4 linked regions of the Homo sapiens genome follow. The protein of the gene in region 1 purifies or fractionates together with the protein of each later gene. This does not show direct contact. Each region holds a gene or a part of one and is shown in the gene's direction. Other genes may lie near its edges.

Region 1 (3,500 bases):
TCTTCTGAAGATAAGAACTTTCTTAGGGGTTCTAGATTGTTATGTAACTTTTCACTAATTTCTAGGTATCTGGTGACCCATCTCATGGGGGCAGATCTGAACAACATTGTGAAATGTCAGAAGCTTACAGATGACCATGTTCAGTTCCTTATCTACCAAATTCTCCGAGGTCTAAAGGTACAGATAATACAAGTAATAATTTTTTAAAATGAATTCTCCCTTTCTCCCCTCCTTTTAGGGCTTAAACAAACAAGTAAACAACTTTTCTAATGGAAAATTCAAACACATAAAATCACAGGTAAAGGTCATATAGTACAGTAAACTGCCATGTTCACTCAGTGACAACAGTTACCGACATATGGCCAATCATGTTTCTTTTGTATTTCCCAAGCCCTGGATTATTTTAAAGCAAGTCTAGACATTATATAATACCATCCATAGATACTTCAGTTTGCATATCTGAAAGATAAGGACTCTTCATTCTTACATCTAAACAATAATTTATTGATGTAATCTAATATCTGGTCAGCGTAATGTTGAGATTTTCAAAAAATCCTCAAGAAAGACTAATTTATTTGTTGGAGGGGCAGATAAACAGTGTTTTAAAATTAAACCCATCTTTGATATTTAGCTGCTTTGAGTCCTTATTGAGCTCCAGAGTGCCAACCAGAAAATAGATTAAAAGCTCAACTGAGTGGAGTCAATGGCTGTGGAAATTATAGTAATGGTAAATGTACACAATACTGATAGTTACTTATGCTGATTTCTAATCTTACTATTAACACTAGCAGTTCTTACTGATTCATGAAAATGTGCAGCAAATATGTTATATAATATGACAATAGAAGGTTGGAGGTAACTTTGACTTTTTTCTCTTTTGCAGTATATACATTCAGCTGACATAATTCACAGGGTATGTATTGTGACTTTGATTACATTATTTTGGGGAAGTGGGGTGAGAGTGGAAGAATGGCATTTAGCCAAGATCCTAATCTAAACTTTAGCCATTGAAATGTTGATTGATTGCAACTTTACTGTAGGTTTAAGCTGATTAAAGAAAGAAGATGTGTAGTTTTTTTCTATGTAAGGCTAACTTGGACTGGATATTGACTGTAGGATGGAGATTGTCTTTTGATAGCTGGATGAAGTCTTTTATGTCTGGATCCTCATTATTACCTGTAGGGGGAGAATTGATCATGCATCATAAAGTTGATCCTGTCTTCCCTGTATTTGCTTCCTAGGACCTAAAACCTAGTAATCTAGCTGTGAATGAAGACTGTGAGCTGAAGGTAAAATGAAGAGACAGTATTCATTGTTTGCTTTACTTTGAGATTATATGTTTGACTAAGCAGGCAGACTTTCTTAGGGAGTAGCTTTGTGAGCCATGACTATCTGAAATTCGTATTATTTTTATTATCAGACTTTGAAATTTAAACCATTTCTGAGTAAGCTAAGTGACATTGAAAGTGGCATCACTTGTTTTTATTTTAACATAAAGTTAAATTATAAATTTGATATATTAGTCATAATAAAGGAGGATAATAGTCAAATATCAAGTAAGTAGGCCCAAAGAGGTGATAACTAGATTAAATACATTTCTAAGAGGAGAAATGGCAGAAACCCACTCACTCAAAATAATTCAAATAAAAAATAAGTGAATTAATTGTTTCTAAATAGCAAGCAGCTCTAGAACTTTTGTTCCATTTCATTTTTTTAACTTGAAAAAATGTCTGTACATTAGAATGCACCATTTCATTTGGCAAAATTATATATCCACTTAACTCACATTTATGATAAAGACCATTTCTTTTTTTTTCCTTTTTTTTGGGATGCAGTCTCACTCTGTTGCCCAGTCTAGAGTGCAGTGGTGTGATCTTGGCTCACTGCAACCTCTGCCTCCCGGGTTCAAGCGATTCTCCTGCCTCAGCCTCCCGAGTAGCTGGGACTACAGGTGCACGCCATCACACCCGGCTAATTTTTGTATTTTTAGTAGAGATGGGATTTCACCATGTTGGCTAGGATGGTGTCGATCTCCTGACCTCGTGATCCACCTGCCTCGGCCTCTCAAAGTGCTGGGATTGCAGGTGTGAGCCATTGCTCCCAGCCAAGAACATTTGGATTACTTTAAAAAGTTTATGGCCAGGCGTGGTGGCTCATGCCTGTAATCCCAGCACTTTGGGAGGCCAAGGCGGGTGGATTATGAGGTCAGGAGATAGAGACCATCTTGGCCAACACGGTGAAACCTCATCTCCACTAAAAATACAAAAATTTAGTTGGGCATGGTGGCGGGCACCTGGAGTCCCAGCTACTTGAGAGGCTGAGGCAGGAGAATGGCGTGAACCTGGGAGGCAGAGCTTGCAGTGCGCCGAGATAGTGCCACTGCACCCCAGCCTGGGCAACAGAGCAAGACTCCGTCTCAAAAAAAAAAAAAAAAAAAAAAAAGTTTATTGTGTCCCTTCCTAGTCAATCCCTACCCCTCCACCCCTAACTCTGGCTCCAGGCAACTATGGATCTGCTTCTAACACTATAGATTAGGTTTATCTTTTCTGGAGTTTCATGTAAATGGAATCATATAGTGTGTATTTTTGTGTGTCTGGCCTTTGCTTGGTGTAATGATTCGGTATTGTTGTGTGTGTCAGTGGTTTCTTCCTTTTTATTGGTAATAGTATTTTGTTTTATGAACATAACAGAATTTTTAAATCTATCCACCTGCTGATGGACATTTGCTTGAGTTTGAGGCTGTGTAAAGCAACTGTGAATGTTTATGTGCAAACCTTTGTATGGACGTAAGTTCTCATTGCACTTGATTAAATACCTGGGAGTGACATTTTTGTTTTGCTTTTTGTAATTTCATTTTAAGTTCTTGCTGTATATTTACCATACATTCTAAGTATGGACCAGGAAATCTCTTTATGAAAGTGCTATTTTGTTCTCCTTTTTAATAAGGCAACAGAGGTTTGTTTGTTGTTGTTGTTTTGTTTTTTTTTCCCTGCCTGTTTCTAAGTCTTAGCAGTTTGTCTGTTCCTCTTCTGCCCTTTAGATTCTGGATTTTGGACTGGCTCGGCACACAGATGATGAAATGACAGGCTACGTGGCCACTAGGTGGTACAGGGCTCCTGAGATCATGCTGAACTGGATGCATTACAACCAGACAGGTATTACTCGCCTTGGTTATTTAGGGCCTTATTTAATTCCATGTTGGATGCATTTGGGATTCTCAGAAATAGAGATGGTGGGAGTGGGAAGAAATGTCTTTTCTTCCCTCAGTGATCCTTTTAAAGCCTGCAAGTAAAAATATTTCACTTCCTCAGATGGGGAAGTGGGGTTTTATACACAGCTTTTAAACCTTGTGATTTAGCAATTGGGTTTTTATTTATTTAGATTTTGAATATATTCTCTGAGTACTTATACCTAAAGACAATTAGTCCATAATTTTAACCCCTCAATGTTACTTGGAAGAATCTACCATTCTACTAATAAGAAACTTGCCCCTTTTTAAA
Region 2 (3,500 bases), on another chromosome or scaffold:
GTGCCGGGAGGCCGTCCATCGGAGGACACACCAGCCCTTCTTCATCTGCTCCCAGCGCAGGGACGCTTGGCTGTTTCTGGATTTGGGCCCTTCTGAATAGAACTAACTGCCCAAATAGAACTGAATAGCACTGGGCTCCTCGAGCACTCCACGTCCCCAGCACTCAGGACTGTTGGTGGCTTTGATGTTGAGCCTGTTGTGGACTCCGGTTGTTGAATGTTGTTCCGTTGTCTAGAATGTTCTAGAATGTGTCGTTTTTTCTGTTTTTAAGGTTTTTATCTTTGATTTAAAATATTGACTATGCTCTCCTTAGATGAGGCTTTCTGTTTTTATCCTGCTTGGGATCCACTGACTTCTTGGATCTCTGTGTTGGTACTTTTTCAAATTAACTTTGGAAAAATGTGAGCCATTATTTCATGAAACGTTTTTCCATCTCAGCTTTGCTTTGCTTTGTTTTGTTTTGTTTTTGAGATGGAGTTTCACTCTTGTTGCCCAGCCTGGAGTGCAGTGGCACCATCTCGGCTCACCACAACCTCTGCCTCTCGGGTTCAAGCAATTCTCTTGCCTCAGCCTCCCGAGTAGCTGGGATTACAGGCGTGAGCCACCATGCCTGGCTAATTTTTTATATTTTTAGTAGAGATGGGGTTTCACCTTGTTGGCCAGGCTGGTCTTGAACTCCTGACCTCAGGTGATCCACCTGCCTCGGCCTCCCAAAGTGCTGGGATTACACATGTGAGTTACCGCGCCTCGCCTGCTTTGTTTTTTTTTTTTTTTGAGACAGAGTCTCGCTCTGTCACCCAGGCTGGAGTGCAGTGGCGTAACCTCAGCTCACTGCAAGCTCTGCCTCCCAGGTTCGTGCCATTCTCCTGCCTCAGTCTCCCAAGTAGCTGGGACTACAGCCGCCCGCCACCACACCCAGCTAATTTTTTGTATTTTTAGTAGAGACGGGGTTTCGCCGTGTTAGCCAGGATGGTCTCCATTTCCTGACCTCGTGATCTGCCCGCCTCGGCCTCCCAAAGTGCTGGGATTACAGGCGTGAGCCACCGCGCCTGGCCTTGCTTTGGTTTTTTGAGACAGAGTCTCACTCTCTTGCCCAGGCTGGAGTGCAGTGGCGCGATCTCGGCTCACTGCAACCTCCGCCTCCTGGGTTCAAGCAATTCTGCCTCAGCCTCCCAAGTAGATGAGATTACAGGTGCCTGCCACCACGCCCAGCTAAATTTTTGTATTTTTAGTAGAGACAGGGTTTTGCCATGTTGGCAAACTCCTGACCTCAGGTGATCTGCCCGCCTTGGCCTCTGAAAGTGCTGGGATTACAGGCGTGGGCCACCATACCCAGCCTTGCTCTCATTCCTGGGTTCTGGTTCTGCGTGTGACAGGAGTGCTTGGCCCTGTCCCCAGGTCCCTCAGCCCTGGCTGTTTTCCGTCTGCCTCTGTGCTCTCCTGGTGTCAGGCTGTGCGGCTGCTGCTGCTGCTGCTTGAAAGTTTACTCTTTTTCTGCAGCCTCCAACCCCAGAAGTCCATGTGGTGAATCTTTGATTGCTTAGTGGCATTTTTCGGTTTCGTCTGATTGTCCATTCGCTCTCAGCTGAGATTTCCCATGTGCACATTCACTTTGGCCATCTTTTCCTTTAAATCTTTGAACATGTTTGTGCTGTTTCTTAGTCCATTTTGTGCTGCTGTAACAGAATGCCACAGACTGGGTCATTTATTTTTATTTATTATTTATTATTTTTTGAGATGGAGTCTTGCTCTGTTGCCCAGGCTGGAGTGCAGTGGTACTATCTTGGCTCACCACAACCTCCGCCTCCCGGGTTCAAGCAATTCTCCTGCCTCAGCCTCCCGAGTAGCTGGGATTACAGGCGCCCGTCACCACACCCAGCTAATTTTTGTATTTTCAGTAGAGACAGGGTTTCACTGTGTGTTGGTTGGCTAGGCTGGTCTCAAACTCCTGACCTCGTGATCTACCTGCCTCAGCCTCCCAAAGTGCTAGGGTTACAGGCATGAGCCACTGCACCTGGCCAGATCATTTATAATGAACAGAAATTGATGGGCTCACCGTTCTGGAGGCTGGTGAGCCCCAGATTGAGGGTGGCGTCTGGCAAAGACCTTCTTGCCATGTCATGGCAAGAAGGCATGGTGGAAGGCAGGACGGCACAGACCGGAGGGGGCTGGATTCGCCCTTTAGTCAGGAACCCACTCCCCTGCTGATGGCATTCACTCATCCACGAGGGCAGCGACTCAGATCCTCTCTCTAGGCCCCAGCCCCAGCCCCAGCAGTGCTGGATTGGGGACCAGGTTCCCAACACATGACCCTTGGGGGGTGCATCAAAGACACAGCACTGTGTGGAGTGACGTCTGTGCTGCTTCTTCCTCCCTTGTCACGGTCACACCTCCCTCACTCACCTGTGGGACAGCCTCACTGGGCGTGGCCGTGGTGTGTGCCGTGAGGTGTGGAGGGTGCCGTCTCCCGGCTTGAGCGCTGAGTTTGTCCCCGTGGCTCACCTTGTTTCTGTCAGGTTGGTTTCAGCGTTGCTGGGGCAAGGCTGAGGGTAAACATGAGCGACTCCAAGGCCAGGGAGCCCTGTGCCAAGGTGTGGACCTTTTGGGTTCTCAGCTGAAGTAGAGAATCCAGGGAGGACCCCGCACTCCGGCCATTGGAGCTGTGGCGTCCTCCCTCCTGTGTGTCCCCCGGAACCTCCTGAGCCTCTCTGGAGCTGTTCTCTGCCAGGCCCCGTGGGCTCTCCTGCCCTCTGCATGCATCGCGAGTACTGCCGGAGGAGGCCCCTTTGGCTTTCAGAGCCCAGAGCGCCCGACCTCCTCCAGGAGTCTGCAGATCCACAGGCCTCAGATGCTGCCACACCCACCCAGCACACACCCAGGTCTCTGACACGCCAGCCGCACACAGCGGTGGGGTTCAGGCGAAGGTTTCTTCCACAGTGCAGAGTAGAAGAGCCGGGAAGGACCCCATCACCATCAGATGCATCAGAGCTTCAAAGGCCCGCCCATCAAGACGCTGCCAAGAGCATGAGGCCAGCCAGGCTGGGGAGGACGTTGGCGAGCATCCGCCTGCCCGTCAGGGAGCCACAGCTGGATGATACATCGACAGACAGCAGAGGGACGGTGTAGCACACAGGCGAGGGCTTGTCCTCCTCAGCCTGGGGGAGCGCAGCTCAGTGCTTGGTGGTCAGCACGTGACTGACACTTTGCCGGAGAAGGGGACGGCTGCCCGCAGGAAGAGCTACACAGCCGTGTTCGCCGGAACTCCGCTCTGGAGAGTCAGAACTGGAGACGGGAGGGCGTGCCTCAAGGGCAGATGGGCAAACCAAACCCCATCCTCCCTGTGAGCCGCGGCACAGCACCAGGCGGGCACACGCAGCACGACACGGCGAGGAGCCCACCGCAGGGGCAGCCTTTTGGGCGGGGAAGGGGGGATGAATCCACTGTGAATCCCACCTCCGAAGGGCAGCGCAGGAAGGACACGCAAATGCTGGACTGAACCT
Region 3 (3,500 bases), on another chromosome or scaffold:
AGATCATAGAGATTGGAGGGAGAAAAGCTTCCCCTCTTCAGTTCTATTTATAATACCTCTACTTCTACTAAAAGCTCCACCTTTTAGTACAGTGGCCCCATTGTGTATCCTAGGGCACTCCATTTTCTCCTCTGCCTGTAACAGAGCTCTTTCTTGGGAAAAGAGAGGAGTGTGTAGAGAGTGAATATGACTGTGTAGAGGCAGTGAGTATAAGTAAGAGAGTATAAGTGTAGAGAGACGAAAGTTTTCTGTGGCTGTGGGTTTGTGTTTCCCTGAAAGGTTAACTGGGAAAATTTAGGGGTAATTCCTATAAATGAGCACTGGGAGTGGTTGAGAAATAGAAAATGTAGAGATTTCTGCTTTTCTTCATTGTTTGGAGAGCAGCTTCAATATTGAAATTAAGCCGCTGTTCTAATGAGATATCACCTAACGATTCAAGGCTTTTTGCTAAGGGCTGCACAATAGATCAAGGATACATCTTAAATTATTATTTATGCTTAAATTGAAGCTTATTTTTATCCTTTTGCCTGTTCTTATTGAGTTTTACATTTGTTTAGGCTAAGGAGCGGGGTTTTTTTTGTTTTTTTGTTTTTTTTTGAAACGGAGTCTCGCTCTGTCGCCCGGGCCAGAGTGCAATGACGCTATCTCGGCTCACTGCAAGCTCCGCCTCCCAGGTTAACGCCATTCTCCTGGCTCAGCCTCCCGAGTAGCTGGGACTACAGGCGCCCACCACCACGCCTGGCTAATTTTTTGTATTTTTAGTAGAGACGGGGTTTCACCGTGTTAGCCAGGATAGTCTTGATCTCCTGACCTCGTGATCCGCCCGCCTTGGCCTCCCACAGTGCTGGGATTACAGGCGTGAGCCACTGCGCCCGGCCGGCTAAAGAGCAGTTGTATAGGAGCAATGAATACCGTTTCACTCAGTTGAAGGAGGTAACATTTAAATATGTGAGGTATGTTCAGTGCTTAGGTCTTGGACAGGAGGAAGTAACAGATCAGAATAAGGTTCAGGTGAAAAGAACCAAGAAGAGAACGTGTCAGGCAGGACAGAACAGGGAATTCTGCAAGTGAGAAGAAAGTACGATTAGTACTGGAAATGGAAGAAAATTCAGCTAGGTTAAAGGTCACAGGAAGAAAGTTAATTCCAGCATTCTCTGAGTTTCAGACAATTCCTGGTGTGCGCTTTCAAGTCTGTCATGGGCCACCTTTCTGCTGCTGAGTGCCCGTACCCTAGCTCAAGGAATAGGGCACACCCCTCTTGTAGAAGGGAAGGTAGGAACGCTGGCTGGTTGGAGACTGTCAGCAACTCCACGGTGATAAGTCGAGCTTAGCACTAAGTAGAAGTATGTCACTTTCTGTAATTTAGAGGAATTGAAAAGGTATCTTGGAAAGAAATTAGTTCTTGGGAACAAAGTCTTTTTTGTGCATATGTCTTTACTGTTGGCATAGAGCATTTTCTGGGATGGGCTCTTCAGATCTCCTCTCCCTGTAAGTGATTTCAGAATTCCATGAATGTTGGGATATGTCCAGGCTGGCACCCTGGGATCATGAAAATAGAAGTTAAGACATTTAAGAAGCAAGAAAACAAAATGGGTAGGTGAGGTGACTAGGAAGAATATCATGCCCAGCACTTCTAGAATTCTCAAAATGAGGAGCATCACTTAAATTTTGAGGGGGATCATTTTTAGGATGGTGACCCAAGCTCTCTTTGTACAGATGAGAAGTCTAGTTATCTCATGAGACCCAGTGTGACTAAAGGACCATAGCATGTAGCTGCGTAATGGCACGGTGGCACTAGGAGCTGATCCATTCATTTATTTATAATTACCAAGGGGAAGTATGGGGTGAGATTTATTCTTAACTCTTAAAATGGTGACATACACTATTTTAAGAATAAACCTCCATTCTTTTTTCGGATATTAATTTAGTGCAACGGCCTTGGACAGGCTCCACCATAAGAAGTGGGTTGCATTTAAAAGTGTATTTATTAAAAGTGGTTGAAGCTGAGTGCTTTTCTGTATTGTAACACTGTTGCAAATGGGGAGTATTCATTCCTAATGTGGCTGCCGAAAGCTTTTTACCCTACCATGTAGCTGAAAATTTAGCAAAAAAAATTTTTTTTTTTTTTGGAGACGGAGTCTCGCTCTGTTGCCCAGGCTGGAGTGCAGTGGTGCGATCTGGGCTCACCACAACCTCTGCCTCCCGGGTTCAAACGATTCTCCTTCCTCACCCTCCCGAGTAGCTGGGATTACAGGTGCCCACTGCCATGCCTGGCTAATTTTTGTATTTTTAGTAGAGATGGGGTTTGACCATGTTGGCCAGGCTGGTCTCCAACTCCTGACCTCAAGTGATCCACCCGCCTCGGCCCCCGCAAAGTGCTGGGATTATAGGCGTGAGCCACTGCACCCAGCCTAGCAAAATTTAAAATTAAGAAATGTAAAGAGTTGAACTAGTTAGTACCCATTATTATTAAGAAAAGTCATGTGGCTCTATATTCTCATAGTACGAATAATTAAGTAAAATAGAAATTCAAAAGTATGAATAAAATTTCTTTGAAAATCTTGAATGTTGAGATATCTTGCCACAGTGAAAAGAATCAGACTTTCTGTTTTGGCAGGTGTGAGTTCTGATTCTGGTTTTGCAAGTTGCTTAACGTCAGGGAGTGAGCCCAAATTTGTCCTTTGCAGAATGGGAACGCTATGCATCTTACAGAGCTGCTGTGATGGTTAATTGCTTGGCACAGTGAAATACAGTAGGCACTCAACAAACTTTTTTTTTTTTTTTTTTTTTTTTGAGACGGAGTCTTGCTCTGTCGCCCAGGCTGGAGTGCAGTGGTACAATCTTGGCTCACTGCAACCTCCGCCTCCCAGGTTCTCACCATTCTCCTGCCTCAGCCTCCCGAGTAGCTGGGACTACAGGCGCCTGCCACCACACCTGGCTAATTTTTTACATTTTTAGTAGAGATGGGGTTTCACTGTGTTAGCCAGGATGGTCTCGATCTCCTGACCTCGTGATCCACCTGCCTCGGCCTCCCAAAGTGCTGGGATTACAGGCGTGAGCCACCACGCCCGGCCTGAACTCAATAAACTTTTATCCAAGCACCTGGATAAAGGATATCCTGAATTTTTTCTTTTCTTTTTTTTTTTCTTTTTTTTTTTTGAGATGGAGTCTCACTCTTGTTGCCCAGGCTGGAGTGCAGTGGCACTATGTTGGCTCACTGTAACCTCTGCCTTCTGGGTTCAAGCGATTCTCCTGCCTCAGCCTCCCAAGTAGCTGGGATTACAGGTGCCTACCACCATACCCAGCTAATTTTTGTATTTTTTAGTGGAGACGGGGGTTTCACCATGTTGGCCAGGCTGGTCTCAAACTCCTGACCTCAGGTGATCCACCCGCCTTGGCCTCCTACAGTGCTGGGATTACAGACATGAGCCACTGTGCCCGGCCTCCTGAATTTTCACATTAAATCTGCAAAAGGAAAAGCAGATTTAATGTGAAGATGA
Region 4 (3,500 bases), on another chromosome or scaffold:
GGCAAAAAAGCCCAGGCCACAAGGACAGGAACCCATGGAGAGCCATCCAGATTGGCATCAGGTACCTGGAACTTAGCCCCAGGAGTGCATGTCCTGTTCTGGTCACTTTAAGAAGGACATGGACCGAGTCACATAATCCTAACAGCCAATGTTTTCCATGCATGTTAGTGCTACATTTCATCTGCACCAGGCAGAGCACCAAGGGTTTCACATGCATTATCTTATTTAATCCTCACCACAGCTGGTGAGCTAGGTGATATTAGTTTCCATTTCACAAGCAAGGGAGCGAGGCTGTGAGGCACATGGAAGTGGGACGAGGAGCCGGCTCTGATGCCTGCAGAAACCATGGGCGGATGGCCTCACACTTTTTTGCTTGTCAAAATTGCCCTGCAGTGGCCAGGGCCCTGCCCACCTCACTCCCTGGCTGCCTCTTTGCCCCATAGGCTCTGACCAGTGGAAGATGGCCGAGAGGAAGCTGTTCAACAAAGGCATTGCCATCTACAAGAAGGATTTCTTCCTGGTGCAGAAGCTGGTGAGCTGGGCTCTGTTTCAGGGCAAATGAGGGCCAGGAGCTGCCTGTGTGACTTTGGGGCTCCCTCTGCCAGTGACCAATCCCTCTTAAAAAGCAGTCAGGTCAATGCTACTGAGTAGCCTCAGAGAGAATTTCCTAAACAATACAAGAAAGAGAAAGATAGGTCTCTTTTCCCTTTTGGTTCTAAGCATCCTTTCCTCACTTCAGGGTAGGGTGGCCAAGCTCTGGGGTCTCAATCCAGAAGGAGGCCTAAGTGGGCATCAGACTTAAAATAGGCAGGAGGAAGATGCGGAGGAGGGTGGCAAGTAGAGGTGAGCCATTCCCCAGAGGAAGATGCAGGGGGAGGGCACCCTGGGGTGAAGGCCACTGAGAGCCAGCAAGTGCCTGCGGAGCTGACCTGGGGGCCTCTGCCCACTTCCTTTGACCCAGAGTTGCCTTCCAGTAACTCAGCTGTTCAAGCCCACATTCCCTAGATTTATCTTGTCCTCTCTCCATATTCTTCTGGAAAAGCAGATGCTTTGCTAATCCAAGGAATTGCATCTTTCCAGCCCTGTCTCACAAAATCTGGGCTGTGGGGAGAGAGAATTGTGTGGACTGCCAAGGGAAAAGAGTTTTTAAAAAGAGCATGCCCTTTCCTCTTGGGATTGTAGATTGTATTGGGAACAGCCCTGGGGACTAGACAAAGTGCTGATGATGAATTCCCCTACAAGGGCCCTGTTGTGAGGAGTCCTTTGCTGTGTTTTAGTAACACGCTATTCCCTGATTGGGCAATACTGACGGGAAGTACACGCCCGTGAAATTCACGGAGGCGCCCCTAATGCCTAATGAAATGAGCAGACCTTTAGTCAGTCAAACAAAGGGTCAGAGAGAATTGACAGTAAATGTGTAAATGGCCTAATTAATACATGTGTGACTTGGCCATTTCTGTGAGATGAAACATGTCTGTTTCCTCCTCAGACACAAAGGGCCCACACTGACCCCTGGCCTCTCTGGACAGGAGCTCCCAGCCCAGCGGTGGCTGAGCAATGTGCGAGCCTGTGTGGTGGTGTCAGAGGAAACAGCCTCTGGGTGTGGGAAAGTTGCCCAAAAACTAAACCCAGTGGCCAAATAGATTTATGCAATGGGAGAGCTAGAATTTCAGAGCTTGAGAGGCAGGTCCCTGGAGATCATCTAGTCTTACTTAACCCCATTTGCTATTTACACATGAAAAAACTGAAATTAGAAAAGTGAGTGACTTGCCTAAGCTCGAATAGCTGTGTGGTAGCAGAGTCAGGAGGAAGACTTAGGCCTTTCGCTTCCTCCTCAGGTTTTCCAGGGCTTTCTTGTGAGTTTCCCTTGAGTTCCTCCCCCGACAGGGGACACTGTGACATTTCTGTATGCTCACTTCTCAGCCACTGCTCCCTGGAGAGAAATGAAATTGTTTGCCTGGATTAATGAAAAGCGTCTGTGTTGCCAGGTCAGGGCTGGCTTTGGATGTAGATGGTGCCCAGACCTTTTCCCTCAACTTTTCAGTTTGAAAAATTTCAAACTTAGAGGAAAATGGAAAGAACAGTAGAATGAACACCCATCCACCCCGGACTTAGATTTAGCAATCGTTAACATTGGCTATATTTGCTTTCTCTTTCTCTATGTCTAAACATAGACACACACATATACAGCTCTCTCTTGTTCTCTGATTCAGCTAATCATTAAAAGTAAGTTACAGTCATCCTGTCACATGACTAAAACCTTTCAGCACGTATCTCCTAAAAACCAAGATATTCTACAAAACCACAGTACCATTAGCACGCCCACGAAATTTAACCTGATAAAATAATTCAGGCCAGGCGAGGTAGCTCACGCCTGTGATTCCAGCACTTTGGGAGGCAGAGGCAGACGGATCACTCCTGAGGCCAGGAGTTTGAGACCAGGCTGGCCAACATGGCAAAACCCCATGTCTACTAAAAATATTTAAAAAAAACTAGCTGGTTGTGGTGGCACACACCTGTAATCCCAGCTACTCAGGAAGCTGAGGCACGAGAATTATTTGAACCTGGGAGGCGGAGGTTGCAGTGAGCCAAAATCGCGTCACTGCACTCCAGCCTGAGTGACAGAGCGAGACTCTGTCTCCAAAAAAAAGAAAAAAAAATACAGTAATGCCCTCTGATATGCAATCCATATTGCCATCTCCCGAGTGGTTCCGACATTGTCCTTTATAGCTTTTTTTATTTATTTACTTATTTTAAATAGTGCTGAAGCATTGATTAATTGATCAGTGGTTTGTTGCAGAGCAGGCATTGGAAAAATGCTTGTATTGCCTGGGTTGGCTGGGTTTCATTTTGGCTTGAAGTTAAGGGAAAGATGCAGGGACGAGAAAGGCTGGATTCTCCACAGGCAGATGAGCCAAACCAGAGGGTTCTGACCTCAGTTTTGACTTCAAACCAGATCCAGACCAAGACCGTGGCCCAGTGCGTGGAGTTCTACTACACCTACAAGAAGCAGGTGAAAATCGGCCGCAATGGGACTCTAACCTTTGGGGATGTGGATACGAGCGATGAGAAGTCGGCCCAGGAAGAGGTTGAAGTGGATATTAAGGTGACTCCTTTTCCAACCTCAGCTGCATAGAGCCTGGGCTGGGTCTGGGACCAGGCCTGAGCTGGGAGCCCGAGCCCGAGCTCTCCAGGAGCCTGCAGAGGGCAGGTTGAGGAAGACAGTGTCCCTGACAGCCGCAAGGAGCCCTGGACCGCTGGGTTCTCCTCTCTATACTGCTGGTGTCATAGTAATAATACATTGTGTTGATACACAGGGTAATTTTCCCACAAGATTCACACCAGCATCATCTTCCTATCTCCGCTTAGCAGACCTCTAACACTGTTTCTCAAACCTCAGTCATTCTTGTATCACCTTTTTGATTTCTGCCATATCTGCATCCTACCATGTGTCGCCATTAGAATTTTTGTCATATTCATATACTACTTGTGCCATTACT

The links. Proteins that work in one complex are often made in the same cells at the same time.
Region 2: the proteins of MAPK14 (region 1) and CSNK1G2 purify together in Homo sapiens (affinity purification with mass spectrometry; 4 studies listed by BioGRID and IntAct, with this or other methods). This does not show direct contact.
Region 3: the proteins of MAPK14 (region 1) and IQGAP1 purify together in Homo sapiens (affinity purification with mass spectrometry; 5 studies listed by BioGRID and IntAct, with this or other methods). This does not show direct contact.
Region 4: the proteins of MAPK14 (region 1) and MIDEAS purify together in Homo sapiens (affinity purification with mass spectrometry; 4 studies listed by BioGRID and IntAct, with this or other methods). This does not show direct contact.

What each region holds. Positions count from the first base shown.
Region 1 is NC_000006.12:36,072,808-36,076,307, forward strand, and holds part of MAPK14 (mitogen-activated protein kinase 14), read left to right. Parts: intron 1-65; coding exon 66-177; intron 178-883; coding exon 884-913; intron 914-1,241; coding exon 1,242-1,289; intron 1,290-3,040; coding exon 3,041-3,155; intron 3,156-3,500. UniProt on the Homo sapiens protein: Serine/threonine kinase which acts as an essential component of the MAP kinase signal transduction pathway.
Region 2 is NC_000019.10:1,972,172-1,975,671, forward strand, and holds part of CSNK1G2 (casein kinase I), read left to right. Parts: intron 1-2,937; exon of another isoform or gene 2,938-3,500. UniProt on the Homo sapiens protein: Serine/threonine-protein kinase. Casein kinases are operationally defined by their preferential utilization of acidic proteins such as caseins as substrates. It can phosphorylate a large number of proteins. Participates in Wnt signaling.
Region 3 is NC_000015.10:90,394,742-90,398,241, forward strand, and holds part of IQGAP1 (ras GTPase-activating-like protein IQGAP1), read left to right. Parts: intron 1-3,500. UniProt on the Homo sapiens protein: Plays a crucial role in regulating the dynamics and assembly of the actin cytoskeleton.
Region 4 is NC_000014.9:73,722,304-73,725,803, reverse strand, and holds part of MIDEAS (mitotic deacetylase-associated SANT domain protein), read left to right. Parts: intron 1-443; coding exon 444-532; intron 533-2,956; coding exon 2,957-3,106; intron 3,107-3,500.